2 linked regions of the Homo sapiens genome follow. The protein of the gene in region 2 interacts with the protein of the main gene of each other region in a biochemical or structural test. Each region holds a gene or a part of one and is shown on either strand. Other genes may lie near its edges.

The links. Proteins that work in one complex are often made in the same cells at the same time.
Region 1: the proteins of ATG4B (region 2) and SLC27A4 form a complex in vitro, tested with the Homo sapiens proteins (one study listed by BioGRID).

Annotation. Positions count from the first base shown.
Region 1 is NC_000009.12:128,343,509-128,350,537, reverse strand, and holds part of SLC27A4 (long-chain fatty acid transport protein 4), read right to left. Parts: intron 5,384-7,029; coding exon 4,989-5,383; intron 1,994-4,988; coding exon 1,835-1,993; intron 227-1,834; coding exon 157-226; intron 55-156; coding exon 1-54. UniProt on the Homo sapiens protein: Mediates the levels of long-chain fatty acids (LCFA) in the cell by facilitating their transport across cell membranes. Appears to be the principal fatty acid transporter in small intestinal enterocytes.
Region 2 is NC_000002.12:241,661,669-241,668,697, forward strand, and holds part of ATG4B (cysteine protease ATG4B), read left to right. Parts: intron 1-4,976; coding exon 4,977-5,170; intron 5,171-6,474; coding exon 6,475-6,553; intron 6,554-6,871; coding exon 6,872-7,017; intron 7,018-7,029. UniProt on the Homo sapiens protein: Cysteine protease that plays a key role in autophagy by mediating both proteolytic activation and delipidation of ATG8 family proteins. Required for canonical autophagy (macroautophagy), non-canonical autophagy as well as for mitophagy.

The sequences.
Region 1 (7,029 bases), on a different chromosome or scaffold from region 2:
TCGTTGGGCCGCATGCGGAATCCATAGTACACCAGGGCAGCCATGCGGTAATACCTGGGAAGGCACAGGGCCAAGGGCTGAGCGGGCCCTAGAAAGGCAGAAGGAGGCTCCCCAGCCCTGCCTGTGCCTACCCCACCCTGGGCACCTGCCCCTTACCTGCTGTGCACCACGATGGCGGCCTTGGGCAGCCCTGTGGTGCCGGATGTGTAGATGTAGAACAGTTTATCTAAAGAAAACAGACGCGAGTGGCTGTCGGGGGCAGCTCAGGGCTGGGCAAAGGGTCACACAAATGGACACCTGCAGGTGTGCACCCTTCAACACCTGTTCCCATCACACCCTTGCTAGGAAGCCTGTTCTGATAACCTCAGATACCATTCAGCTCTAACACCGGCATCCATTCCAACAAATATTTCCTGGGCCCTTGCTCTGTGCTAGGCCCTGGTGGAGAGAGACATCAGTGAGTAAGATGGGCACGGGCCTGGCCCTCTTGGCAGTCACAGCTCAGTGGAACAGTCAGATGAGGACACAGGCAATTCCAATACTAAGCAACAAGTGCCGAGGGAGGGCACAGGACCTGTTGAAACCCAGTAGCCACATTTGGCCCAAGCTTGCAGGAGGGGAGGTGGTGCCAGGTGGGCTTCACGATAAAGGTGACACCTGCCCCAAGTCATAGAGCACAGGGAGGCATTAGCTGCAGGAAGTGGGGTGTTGAGGTAGCTTCCGCACTGCTGAGCATTGATCTGTCCCACTCTGCAGCCCTCGACAGGGATTGCCACGTTAGAGTTTCTATGTGAGGCTCGGCCCTACCAGACTTGAGGTTCCCTGGAGGTCAGGAACTCCACAGGCAGACTCCACGTGTTTAGAATGCCTGCCGAGACACCTCATGCTCTCTGCCTGCCTGCTGTTTGCCAGCCCTAGGCACTATGAGGGCACCAGAGCAACCAGCCAGAGTCCCTGCCCTCAAGCAGCTGACAAATGCACCCAAGAGACCAGATTCACATACAAGAGAGAAGTTAAACAGTGCTGATGACAATGACCAGTTACTGAGCCCCTCCTGCCACACCCTAGCTTCAGGACTGGCCCCACTGTATTTTTTTCAACCCTCAAAGATACCCCATAGAGTAGGTTCTGCTACTGTCCCCAGTTTTATGGCTGTGGGAACTGAGGCTCCAAGGGCAGGGCAGGTGTCAGGGTTCACACAAAGGAAGCAGTAGAACCAGGATATAAACTCGGATCTGACTCGACAGCCCAAGCTCTGAGCCACCAGGCAATGTGGCTTCACAGGAAAGAGAATGAGAAGAGCAGAAGAACCAGGTAGGCTACAGTATAAAAGAAGAGGGGTGAGAGGCTCAGGAAGGCTGCCTGGAGGTGGGGTCAGGGAGGCAGCACAGTGCTGGGAGAGGATCACAGCTGGAGATCCTGAAGTGTCCTGCACTGAAGAGGCACTTGATGAATATACAAAGGGTCTTGCTCCTCACCCACCCTCCCACCCAACCCCAACCAAAGCCCAGACCAGGCAGGTTCCCGGAGTCCACAGGATTCTGCCCATTAGGCATCAATGAAGGCTTGTTCAACAAATCACACTGGACTTTGTGAGCTCCTGTGTTCTCAGCCCTGTATCTGGCACTGATACACATCAGCTCATGTCACCTTCACAGTAACCCTGGAGTGGCCCAGGTTTACTGTCACCATTTTCCAGATGGAAAAAGGGAGGTGACGTGACATGTTCCAGGCACATGGCAAGTTTCCAGAAAAGCCTCCTTCTGGCACTGAGGCCAGTGCTCTGTCCAGGGCCTGTGTGAGAGCCCCTCTATGGGGAGGGGATGGAGCCCACCTGTGAAGCCCTTGTCAGGGCAACTGGGAAGGTGCTTGGGAGCATCTTTCAGCAGAGGGTCCAGGTGTTCTGTGCTTGGAGGCACCGCACCGGGCTCCCAGGAGCCAGAGCAGAAGAGGCTGAGCGAGGGGTCCAGGCTGGCATGGACCTCACAGATGGCTGTGGGGAGACAGGGCAGTCAGCAGGCAGGCCAGAAAACCCCATGTTCCCAGGGACCTCTGCTCCCAGCAGGGCTGGCCATGTTGCTGAGGATACTGGCTGGGCAGGAGGAGAGGCAGTGAAGCAACTGGGCCTTCAGTGTTGACAGGGGCACCGGCAATGGTTCTATTAGCCATGGGCTAACCACAGAGTAGGTCCGCTTTACCTGCATTCCCTGGTCTCACAGCCCTGGGAAGGAGGGACCATTGACAGCCCCTCTTACAGATGAGAAGATTGACGCTCCGAGAATGAGAGGACCTGCTCACAGCTAGAATGTGCTGGACCTGGCGTGCAATGCCAGCTCTACCTCACATCAAGGTCTGGGCTCCCCCCCACTATCCCGCACTACTTACTCTGTGGTGCACCAGATAGAAGGGAGGAGTGCGGGTCAGAGGCCAGTGGCCCTCCATCCCCTTCCGAGAGCGGGAACCTGCTTTCAGGCTCCCCTGCGCACTGCACGGACATCACATAACCCCCACCCCCGGGCATGGAGCAGCGCTGGTCGGCTTGGCCCCACCTTCCTGGCTTCCTCTTGATTTGCCCAACCCTCTCTTCTTCCCTGGCTGCCTTCTTCCCTCTCCCCTTTCAGCACCATTTTTTTCTTTCCTTTCTTTTTTTTTTTTTTTCTTTTGCTTTTTTTAAATAGAGACAGACAGGGTCTCACTATATTGTCCAGGCAGGTCTTGAACTCCTGGGCTCAAGAGATTCTCCTGCCTTGGCCTCCCAAAGTGCTGGGATTACAGGCATGAGCCACTGTGCCTGGCCCCCTTTCAGCATCTTTTTTTTTTTTTTTTTAAGACAGAGTTTCACTCTGTCGCCCAGGCTGGAGTGCAGTGGCATGATCTCGGCTCACTTGGTTCAAGTGATTCTTGTGCCTCAGCCTCCTGAGTAGCCAAGATTACAGGCGTGTGCCACCACACCTGGCTAATTTTTGTATTTTTAGTAAAAACAGGGTTTCACCATGTTGGCCAGTCTAGTCTTTAACTCTCGAGCTCAGGTGACCTGCCCTCCTTGGCCTCCAAAAGTGCTGGGATTACAGGCGTGAGCCACCATGCCAGGCCCCCTTTCAGCATCCTAATGACTTCCCTATTCATTATCCCACAACCACAACAGTGTGGGGAGAAAAAACAGAGTGCTGTGATCAAGCTGAAGATCAAACCCCAGTTCTACCACTTACTAACTGTGTGATCTTGGGTGAGCTCCTCACAAACCCCTCTGAACTCCAGGCTCATCATCCATAAAACCAAGATCCCTACCTCACTCGGTCTTTATAGAGATTAGAGCTGCTCTTGGAAAGCAGCAACCTCAGTACTTTGCAGGTGCCCAATGTGGCAGCAAATAAAATGCAGGCTCTGTGAGGAAAGTGGGGAATTAATTTTGTTCCCATTTTACAGATGAGCTAGATACGGCCTAATTAGTCACAAGGATGATTACCATTGTACTGAGGGGCCACCTAGCATCAGCCATGTTGCTAGTGCTTCAGGTAAGTATCTTTTTTTTTGACACGTAACCTCTCTCTGTCATCCAGGCTGGAACACAGTGACGTGATCTCGGCTCACTGCAACCTCTGTCTCCTGGGTTCAAGCGATTCTCCTACCTCAGTCTCCCGAGTAGCTGGGACTACAGGTGCGCACCACCATGCTCGGCTAGGTTTTTTTTTGCATTTTTATTAGAGACGGGGTTTCACCATGTTGGCCAGGCTGGTCTCAAACTCCTGATCTCAAAGCTGCCCACCTCGACCTCCTAAAGTGCTGGGATTTACAGGCATGAGCCACCACACCCGGCCTTTTATTTTGTTTTTTTTGAGACAGGGTCTCACTCTGTCTGCCAGGCTAGAGTGAAGTGGCACAATCATCACTCACTGCAGCCTCAACCTCTTAGTCTTAAGTGATCCTCCTGCCTCAGCCTCTGAGTAGCTGGGACTACAGGTCCATGTCACCAAGCCTAGCTAATTTTTTAAAAACTTTTTTTAGGCCGGGCGTGGTGGCTCATGCCTATAATCCCAGCACTTTGGGAGGCCGAGGCGGGTGGATCACGAGGTCAGGGATTGGAGACCAGCCTGACCAACATGGTGAAACCTCGTCTCTACTAAAAATACAAAAAAATTAGCTGGGCGTGGTGGCGGGTGCCTGTAATCTCAGCTACTCAGGAGGCTGAGGCAGGAGAATTGCTTGAACCCGGGAGGTGGAGGTTGCAGTGAGCCGAGATCACGCCACTGCACTCCAGCCTGGGCGACAGAGCAAGACTCTATCTCAAAACAACAACAACAAAAAAAACAAAAAAAAACAAAAAACTTTTTTTAGTAGGCCAGGTGTGGTGGTTCATGCCTATAATCCCAGCACTTTGAGAGGCAGAGGTAGGTGGATCGCTTGAACTCAAGAGTCTGAGACCAGCCTGGGCAACATGGCAAAACTGAGTATCTACAAAAAATGTGAAATTTAGCCAGGCATGGTGGTGCATGTCTGTGGTCCCAGCTATTCAGGAGGCTGAGGTGGAGGGACTGCTTGAGCCTGAGAGGTCAAGGCTGCAGTGAGCTGTGACTGCACCACTGCACTCCAGCCTGGGTGACAGGGCAAGACCCTGTCTCAAAAAAATTTCTTAGTAGAGACAGGGTCTTACTATGTTGCCTAGGCTGGTCTCAAACTCCTGGGCTCAAGGGATCCTCCTGCCTTGGCCTCCCAACATGCTGGGATTACAGCTGTGAGCCACTATGCCCAGTCTGAAGTACCTTTTTGAAAACAGTATGAGGTAGGAACGACGGATGAGGAAACTGAGGCTCAGAGAAATCAGTCCCTTCCCCAGGATCTCGTTTACTCGTGGCACTGCCTAAGCTGTCTGACTCCACTCTGTGCCCTTAACCACTGACCCACACAGCCTTGGCAGGGCTGGAAGGGAGCTGTGGTCTGTGTAAGATCCCATGGGGTTCCTGCTTGTCCCCCGCCCCCTTGGGGCTCACCTGAGGCCATTTCGCTGCCAAAGACAAGGGCCCGTGCGCGCGAGGTGGTGAGGCAGTGGAGCAGAGCATCCCGCCGCAGGTTGGTGTTGATGAGGGCTGCCTCCACACCGAGCTTGGCCATGCCCAGCCATAGGCCCACGAACTCATTGCGGTTCTCCATGAAGATGGCAGCCACATCGCCCGAGGCCAGGCCCCGGGCCTGCAGGAAGTTGGCTACACTGCTTGAGTACTCATCCAGCTGGCGGAAGGTCCAGTGGGTATCTGTGCCCTCGAAGATCAGGGCCGTCTTGTCGGGGTGGCGCCGAACGGTAGAGGCAAACAAAATGGGCACTGTCCGCCGCTCCTGCAGGCACTGTCGCACCTTTGCCTTCACCTTCAGGAGGACCAGGCCGCCACTGTGTGTGAACAAGAGAGGGCGCTGTGTCTGCCATGGTTGGGAGGGAGGGGTCCTGACACCCTACCCCAGGCTGCTGCCTCGCCAGCCTATGCTTCATGAGCCAGACCCCCTACAACACTTCTATCTCCTGGCTCCTGCTGGGAACATGCACTGCCTTACTGATGCCTCTCAATAACACTGAGAGTTCGTATGATTCCCCTCCCCTTACACAGAAGGAAATCAAGGCTCTCGTGGTGCCGTGGCCTGCTCAAAGCTTCATGGATGGAGGGTGGCTGAGCTGAGATTTGAACTCTAGGCCTCTCTGGCTCCAGAGTTCTACTCCTACCCTCTCAGCCTGCTGCTCCAGCAGAAACCTCCTAGGTCTCCAGAGCTTCCTGTAAAAGTCCAAACTCCTTGTTTGGGGCCTCCCACAGTCCAGCTGCTCCCTCGACCCACCATGACCACAGTAAATAATGAATGAGTTTGCTGGTCTGTCCAGTCTTCCTCCCTGTGAGCCTAGCTGGGATAGGCTTCTGTCTTATTCAACACTCTATCCCCTGGGTCCTGTGCCAGGCAGAGTAGATGTTCAATAAGTTTGTGGAATCACTTGGCAACATCCCATTCCTGCCACCTTTGTTTTTTTGTTTTTTTTTTTGAGATGGCGTCACACTCTGTCACCCAGGTTGGAGTGCAGTGATGCAATGTCAGCTCATTGCAACCTCCACTTCCCAGGCTCAAATGATGCTCCCACCTCAGCCTCCCAAGTAGCTGGAACCACAGGTGTGCACCACCATGCCTGGCTAACTTTTTTGTATTTTGGTAGGGACGGGGTTTTGCCATGTTGCCCAGGTTAGTCTCAAACTCCTGAGGTCAAGTGATCCACCCACTTCGGCCTCCCAAAGTGCTAGGATCACAGGTGTGAGCCACTGCGCCCAGCCCTGGACTCCATGCCTTTGTTGCTGATGCTGTGCCTTCTGGTTGGATTCATCTCCTTCCACCACCACTAAGGCGCCTCTCAAGTACAGCCGCTTTTTCTCCAGGAGGCCTTCTCTGATTCCCAGGGTCCTGGCTGGCAGCTGTTTCTCCTTGCTCCATGCTCCCACAGCTACCACCCTTCCTGGTGTGCCACTCCGTGCCTTCTTTTGCAATCAACCAAGATTGACAAATGCTGAGCTGCCTGTGTGGGGTGTGGGTCACTGAACTGGGTGCTGGGACACAGTAGTGAGCAAGGCTGTGCCAGGGTCTCTGCCCACATGGCACTGCCAATTTACAGATGTGCTGTGTCCCTTTCTTTCTCCTGACCAATCTGAGCTTGGCAGATGGGGTCTGCCTTATTCCTCTCTGGACCCCAAAGCTAGCCTGGCACCTAGTAGAGAACAAGCGGGAATAGATATTTCTGGTACAGGATGTCCCTTGGAGCATACCGGGCTTTCTTTGGGGAGCAGGTTATCCCAGACATCTGAGTAGGGGCTCTGCTCTAGAACTCAGTGCCCCCTGTGCCATCTCACACCCCTGCCAACCTGAGGGCAGGGCCTTTCCCCAAAATTCCTCTTTACCCTTTCATAAACTTACAGAGTCCTCAGGACCCCTTGCAGATGTCTCAACACACTTGGTGTTCAATGTACGTCCTAGGCCAAGCCTGCCCAAGGCCTGGGAGCCTCAAGT
Region 2 (7,029 bases):
CGGTGTTCCCACTCAGATTTTAGGTGAAGCCTGTGGGGTAAGGGGAGACCTTACTGCCTACAGTGTCCCCATCCACCAACCCATCCCCCCCGCAACTCATCCTTCTGTCCACCCCCAGTCAAAGGCCAGCCAGGACATCCTTAGCATGCTCTTCTTGTCCTTAACGTTGATGGGCTTAGACCTTTCTAACGACAGTAGACAGAATGTCACTGAATGTAGGGAGGAAATACAGATTGGAAAACGTGTCAGTCTGGCAGTGAGGACAAATGACTCCAATGAAAGAAAAGTAAATACCAGAGCAAGCACAGTCAGAAACAGAGTGGGGAGGAGAATCACAATAGCTGGAACTCAACTCTCTGAGAGGCAGTGCAGCCAAATAGAGGCAGCTGAGAGCAGAGTATGTGGATTAGAACTTTTCGGGAGAGTTGGCCACTGAAGGAGTAGGAGAAAATTCCCCTGAGTTGGTGAGAGTTGAGTCTTTAGAGCTAAAGACCCCCAAATTTTTTTATCAGAAGTACTTAAACATACATGTTCCTGATAATATTTCCAAATTGCAGAAGTAAAGGGAAACTTCTCTAAACATCCAAATAATAGTATCACTACTAAGCTGCTTTGAAGAAAGGCAGTCTCAACTGGCCTGGGCATCTCATCTTTGTGCCATACCAAATGCTACTGGAAAATGTTTAGAATTCTGAGAAAAGACCTGGCTTCATGAGGTGAGAGTAGGTATGTGTACTGTGTAGTTGTCATTGATAGAGAAATATAAATTTTAAATGTGTTCAAAATATAAAGAGAACACGAGAAAATTTCAGGTGGTGGCAGGAATAGGCAAAAGCCCGTTGCACCCTGTTGACAGCAGGGTGTTTGTGACGTGGTAGGTCACACACTCAGTGCTGGGCTCTGGAGGCACAGAAGCAACCGGCCCAGCTACGCATCAGCCCTTGAGCCGATTCATGTGTTCGATCATATTCCTGAGACAGTAGGGTCTGTGCAGGTAACAAAGCACCAGTCAGCAGGAAACTCACCACCGGGAAGCCTTTCTATCAAAACATAACTTCAAAATCAGTAAAGTGGGCCGGGCATGGTGGCTCACGCCTATAATCCCAACTTCAAAATCAATAAAGCGGGCCGGGCGCGGTGGCTCACGCCTATAATCCCAACTTCAAAACCAATAAAGTGGGCCGGGCGCGGTGGCTCACGCCTATAATCCCAACTTCAAAATCAATAAAGCGGGCCGGGCATGGTGGCTCACGCCTATAATCCCAACTTCAAAACCAATAAAGCGGGCCGGGCGCGGTGGCTCACGCCTATAATCCCAGCACTTCGGGAGGCCAAGGTGGGTAGATCACATGAGGTCAGGAGTTAAAGACCAGCCTGGTCAACATCGTAAAACCCCATGTCTACTAAAAAAAAAGTTAGCTGGGCATGGTGGCACGCCCTCGTAATCCCAGCTGCTCGGGAAGCTGAGGCACGAGAATTGCTTGAACCTGGGAGGCAGAGGCTACAGTGAGCTGAGATCATGCCACTGCACTCCAGCCTGTGTGACACAGTAAGACTGTGTCTCAAAAAACCAAAACAACAAAAAATAATAAAAATATATAGAAAACAGAATAATTAACAGATTAGCTATGGAAAGATCAAAGCTACAGGGGACCCAGATAACACAACAGGCAGAGTTTAGTAGATACGTGTCAAACCCTAGATTGTGACAGCAGAGTGTGCCTGGGAATTTCTATGAAACTAATGCGGAATAAAATGAAAAAAGGACAAAACCCTGCTGCCTGGAAATGTGAAACCTCAAAAAAGTCAAGTGTAGAGACCGTAACTATGTATCTGAACCTGATGTGTACAGAACTCAGAAGAAAACCTGTGTATCTTCAGTACTAGTATATGGGTTCTTTACAAAGTGAAAATTAATGAAATAAGCATACAACTCAAGAATTCGGAAAAAGCAAAATTAACTGAAGAAACCAAAGAATAATATTAAAGACAAATACAGAAATTAATGATTTAAAGGAAGAAATGTATTAGGCCAGGTGTAGTGGCTCATGTTTGTAATCCCAGCACTTTGTGAGGCTGAGGCAGGAGGATTGCTTAAAGCCAGGAATTCAAGACCAGCCTGGGCAACATAGCCAGACGTCTATTTTTTTTTTTTTTTTGGAACAGTTCTGCTCTGTCGCCAGGCTGGAGTGCAGTGGTGGCACGATCTTGGCTCACTGCAATTTCCGCTGCCCAGGTTCAAGTGATTCCCCTGCCTCAGCCTCCTGAGTAGCTGAGACTACAGGTGCATGCCACCACGCCTGGCTAATTTTTTGTATTTTAGTGGAGATGGGGTTTCACCATATTTCACCATGTTGGCCAGGATGGTCTTGATCTCCTGACCTCATGATCTGCCCACCTTGGCCTCCCAGAGTGCTGGGATTACAGGCGTGAGCCACCGTGCCTGGACCTCATTCTATAAAATATTTTAAAAATAAATTTTAAAATTAAATTTATTAGAACTAACACATACTAGAACTGGCTCTTTGAAGCAATAACATATATGTTTTAAAAAAATCAAAGTTAAAATCCCTCCCTTGGCTAAGCACTGTGGCTCCCGCCTGTAATCCTAGCACTTTGGGAGGTGGAGGCAGGCAGATTGCTTGAGTCCAGGAGTTTGAGACCAGCCGCCTAGGTAACATGGTAAAACCTCATCTCTACAAAAAAACAAAACAAAAAAACTAGCCGGACATGGGGGCATGTACCTGTAGTCCCACCTACTCGGGAGTCTGAGGTGGGAGGATCCCATGAGCCTGGGAGGTTGAGGCTGCAGTGAGACATGATTGCACCACTTCACTCCAGCCTGGGTGACACAGTAAGACCCTGTCTCAAAAACCAAACAGAAACCCAAACAACTCCCTTAAGGCTGGGCGTGGTAGCTCCTACCCATAATCGCACCTCTCAGGGAGGCTGAGTTGGAGGATTGCTTGAGACCAACCTGGACAACTCCCTCTCTATAAGAAATAGAAAAATGAGGCCAGGCACATGGCTCATGTCTGTAATCTCAGCACTTCGGGAGGCTGAGGTGAGCAGATCACTTGAGGTCAGGAGTTCGAGACCAGCCCGGCCAATGTGGCAAAACCCCGTCTCTACTAAAAATACAAAAATTAGCTGGGCGTGGTGACACACACCTGTAATCCCAGCTACTGGGGAGGCTGAGGCAGGAGAATTGCTTGAGCCCAGAAGGCGGAGGTTGCAGTGAACCGAGATTATGCCACTGCACTCCAGCCTGGACAACAGAGAATCGGCTTCAAAAAAGAAAAGTCAGGGGGCACAGTGGCCCACACCTGTTGTTCCAGCTACTCGGGAGGCTGAGGCGGGAGGATTGCTTAAGTGCAGGTGTTTGAGGCTGCAGTGAGCTGTGGTTGCACCACTGCACTGCAGCCTGGGTGACAGAGTGAGACCCCGTCTCTAAAAGAAATTTAAAAAGTTCTGTCTCAGAATCCTTGTTTTCCAGCTGTCTGTTTTGAGAAATTTGAGTCCTACAAAAAAGTTCAGTGAGTCATGGCCACAAACCCTCCACCTAGATCCACCAATTGTGTTTTGACACGCTTGGTTTTTATGAGCAAGCCTCCTACGAATGAGAGTGTTCCTGAGAGCCACACAGCCTCATCACCACAAAAGAGGTGACGCCACGACTCACCAGGGTCCGTCTTGGCCCCTTGCTGTCCAGGGAACAACCCGTGCCGCTGATTTGTGTTCCTGGTTGAGGGTCCGGTGCTGTGTGTATATAGTTGTGATGTCTTTCTAGTCTTTAATTGAGAAGGTTCTGCCTCTTTGTTGTGGTTGTTGCTGCTTTGTGGCATTTTTGACGAGTTCAGGTCAGCTGACCATCCCACACGCTGGATTTGTCTGCTTCCTCACAGTTGGGCTTGGGTTGAGCCTGTGGCTGAGAGTAGCCTCTGGGTGGCAGTGTCCTCTGCTCTCCCATCCGGGGCCTGCAGTGGGACACTATGTCAGATCCCCGGAGATGGTGTCTTTTTTCCTTTGTAATTAATGAATAATCCAGTGGTGACACTGAGCATGTCCTGGTGAGCTGTGTGACTCCTGCCTGATAATGGTGGTTTTTCTAGCCTGTCCTTTCCTTTCACGTTTATTGGTTGGCGTTCTGAGAAGAGCCGCCTTTTCTCCCATCACTTAGTGTGCAGTGTGCTACCTGTCACCTGTCTGTCACCTGTCAGTCACTGTCACCTGTCACTGTCACTGTCACCTGTCACTGTCCATCTTTTTGATGCTTGACGGTTCCACCTTTGGCCGGTGGCCACCTCAGTCTGGTGGTGTCTTTTGCCGTGTTCTGGCGTTTTTCGTTTATGTTTTGAGCCCTCCCTTATGTTCTGGGTTAAGCAGATGCTGCAGGCACCTCTGAACATTCCCTGCCTGGCCCTGGAATCAGCCTGGCTCCTCTGAGTGGGGAGTGGTGTTGAGAAACCTCGATCTAGACGCCGGGCATGCTCCATGCTCCCGGAGTGTCTTCTCCCATCACCGCACCCTCCGGTTGATGTGTCCTCCGGACCATTGACTCACGGGTGTGTGTAGGCAGAAGGGGTGGAAGCGAGGAAAGGCGTTGCTGAGGAGGCCCGGAGGGAGCGGGTTCTGGCTGTGCTGGCACTAGCCAGGCTGGCAGGCTGCGTGGGTACTTCTGTGATTTTCCTCTCAAGTGCACGTGGCTTTTTCTTGCACTGTTTCGTGTGTGTGCTTTATTTCACAATAAAACTCTTGAATTAAGTATGCATAGAAACTATTTCTTTTTTCTCTGGGTGGCAAGATTATGAAAAAATTTTCTTACGCTTTTCTATATTTTCCAAGTTTGAATTTCACTGTAAGCACCTGGCTTTGTACCGCCCTTTTTCTGTTACACAGTCATCATTTGCTTGCTTGTTGTGGGAGCACTTTTGCACAGGTCTGCTTGGTTAGTGAAAGCATGTCTCCCTTTCTAGGAAGGTTGTGCAGGACCAGCGTTCCCTGTGCAGGCGCCACTGCGTTTCCTGCAGATTCCGACCGGCACTGCAACGGATTCCCTGCCGGAGCTGAGGTCACCAACAGGCCGTCGCCATGGAGACCCCTGGTACTTCTCATTCCCCTGCGCCTGGGGCTCACGGACATCAACGAGGCCTACGTGGAGACGCTGAAGGTGGGTCCTGCCGTGCGGCGCTTGCCCTGAGTCCCCGTCCCCTTCTCCCAGTTCTTAGTCACTTTCAGCGCATCGTCGTCACGTGGCCATTTGTGCAGCCGGCTCTCGGGGGAGGGGTAAACAACCCTGGTTTACACCGTTGCCCAAGGGGTGAGTGGGCGTGAGGCACGTCCATCAGTAGGCACGTGCTGCTTTCGTTCTGCAAGTGTCAAGGCGAGTGTCGAGGATGAAAGCATGAGGCGCTTGCAGGGGGTCCTTGGAACCAGGTGCCACTCCTCGGCCTGACGGGGAGCCCCGCCCCCTCCCGGGTCTCCACTGTGCCCCAGGCATGCCCACCCCACTCCCCCACAGCCCTCTTGGCCTGAGGTCCCTTCGGAGGGTGGGTTGGCCTGTGAGGAAGGGACGTGTGGGCAGGGCCTGGGGATGGGCAGGGCTGTGTGAGGAGCTCCAGCCACAGGCTCCCCCATGTCATGAAAGCAAAAGGGGGCGGGGAGCGGTGGCTCATGACTGTAATCCCAGCACTTTGGGAGGGCAAAGCGGGCAGATCACGAGGTCAGGAGTCTGAGACCAGCCTGGCCAACATGGTGAAACCCTGTCTCTACTAAAAATATAAAAATTAGCCGGGCATGGTGGTGCGCGCCTGTAGTCCCAGCTACACAGGAGGCTGAGGCAGGAGAATCTCTTGAACCCAGGAGGCGGAGCTTGCAGTGACCCGAGATCATGCCATTGCACTCCATCCTGGGTGACAGAGTGAGACTCCATCTCAAATAAAAAAAAAAAAAAAGCAAGCAGAAGGGAAAACCATCCTTTCTTCAGGTAACTCAAATTTTAGACCAAGGAGTCACATTTGTATGGAACTGAAATGTGGCTTCCTGTTAAAATTATTCAGTTGTCTGAACTTGGCCCCTCCGTCCAGCCTTCTGCCCATCCTGTGGGGTCTCAGCTGCCCCCACACATAGGCCCCGTCTCCATCGCTTCTGCCCTGTCAGGTCAAAGCACTCAGCAGGGCCACCTCCCGCACCCCTGCTCACATCTCCTGCCAGGCCCCCTCACTCCCGGCCTCCCCAAAGCCCACCTCTGACATGAAGCTTCCCTGAGCTGAGCCTGCAGATTGGGTTTCTTGTGCCTGTGGGATGTCCTGTGGTCTTTCCTGGACAGTAAGCTCTTTGGTACCATGTCCCCTCCTGTCCCCTCTTGTGTCACCCAGTTGGGCCTCAGCAGGCCCTTGGGCCCCCTATGGCAGTGGGTGGGGGGACCGTCTGCTCCCACCTGGGACCTGTGCTCAGTCCCCCGCCCCTCCACAGCACTGCTTCATGATGCCCCAGTCCCTGGGCGTCATCGGAGGGAAGCCCAACAGCGCCCACTACTTCATCGGCTACGTTGGTGAGTCCAGGGTTCCCACCGTGTCCCTGTGGGCCTGGGCCTTTTAAGGGCATTCCATGAGCAGGTACCACACCCCAGGTGACCACTTGAGGCCACTGGTGGAAAAGCAGCATGCCCTGGGGTTCATTTTCAGCCTGGTCGCGGGCGGCCTCCTGTGTGCCCCTTTCCCTGATGGTCTGGTGCCCTCGGCTCCCTCCCCACCTCCTGCCCACTGCTTCTCAGTGTGATGTGGGTGCAGTGGGTCTGAAATGCGGCCTCCTCTGTCCCTTTCCTCTGCCGGCTCGGCCACCCACCTGCCCACCTGCCTCATCCTCCCAGGTGAGGAGCTCATCTACCTGGACCCCCACACCACGCAGCCAGCCGTGGAGCCCACTGATGGCTGCTTCATCCCGGACGAGAGCTTCCACTGCCAGCACCCGCCGTGCCGCATGAGCATCGCGGAGCTTGACCCGTCCATCGCTGTGGTACGTGGCGGC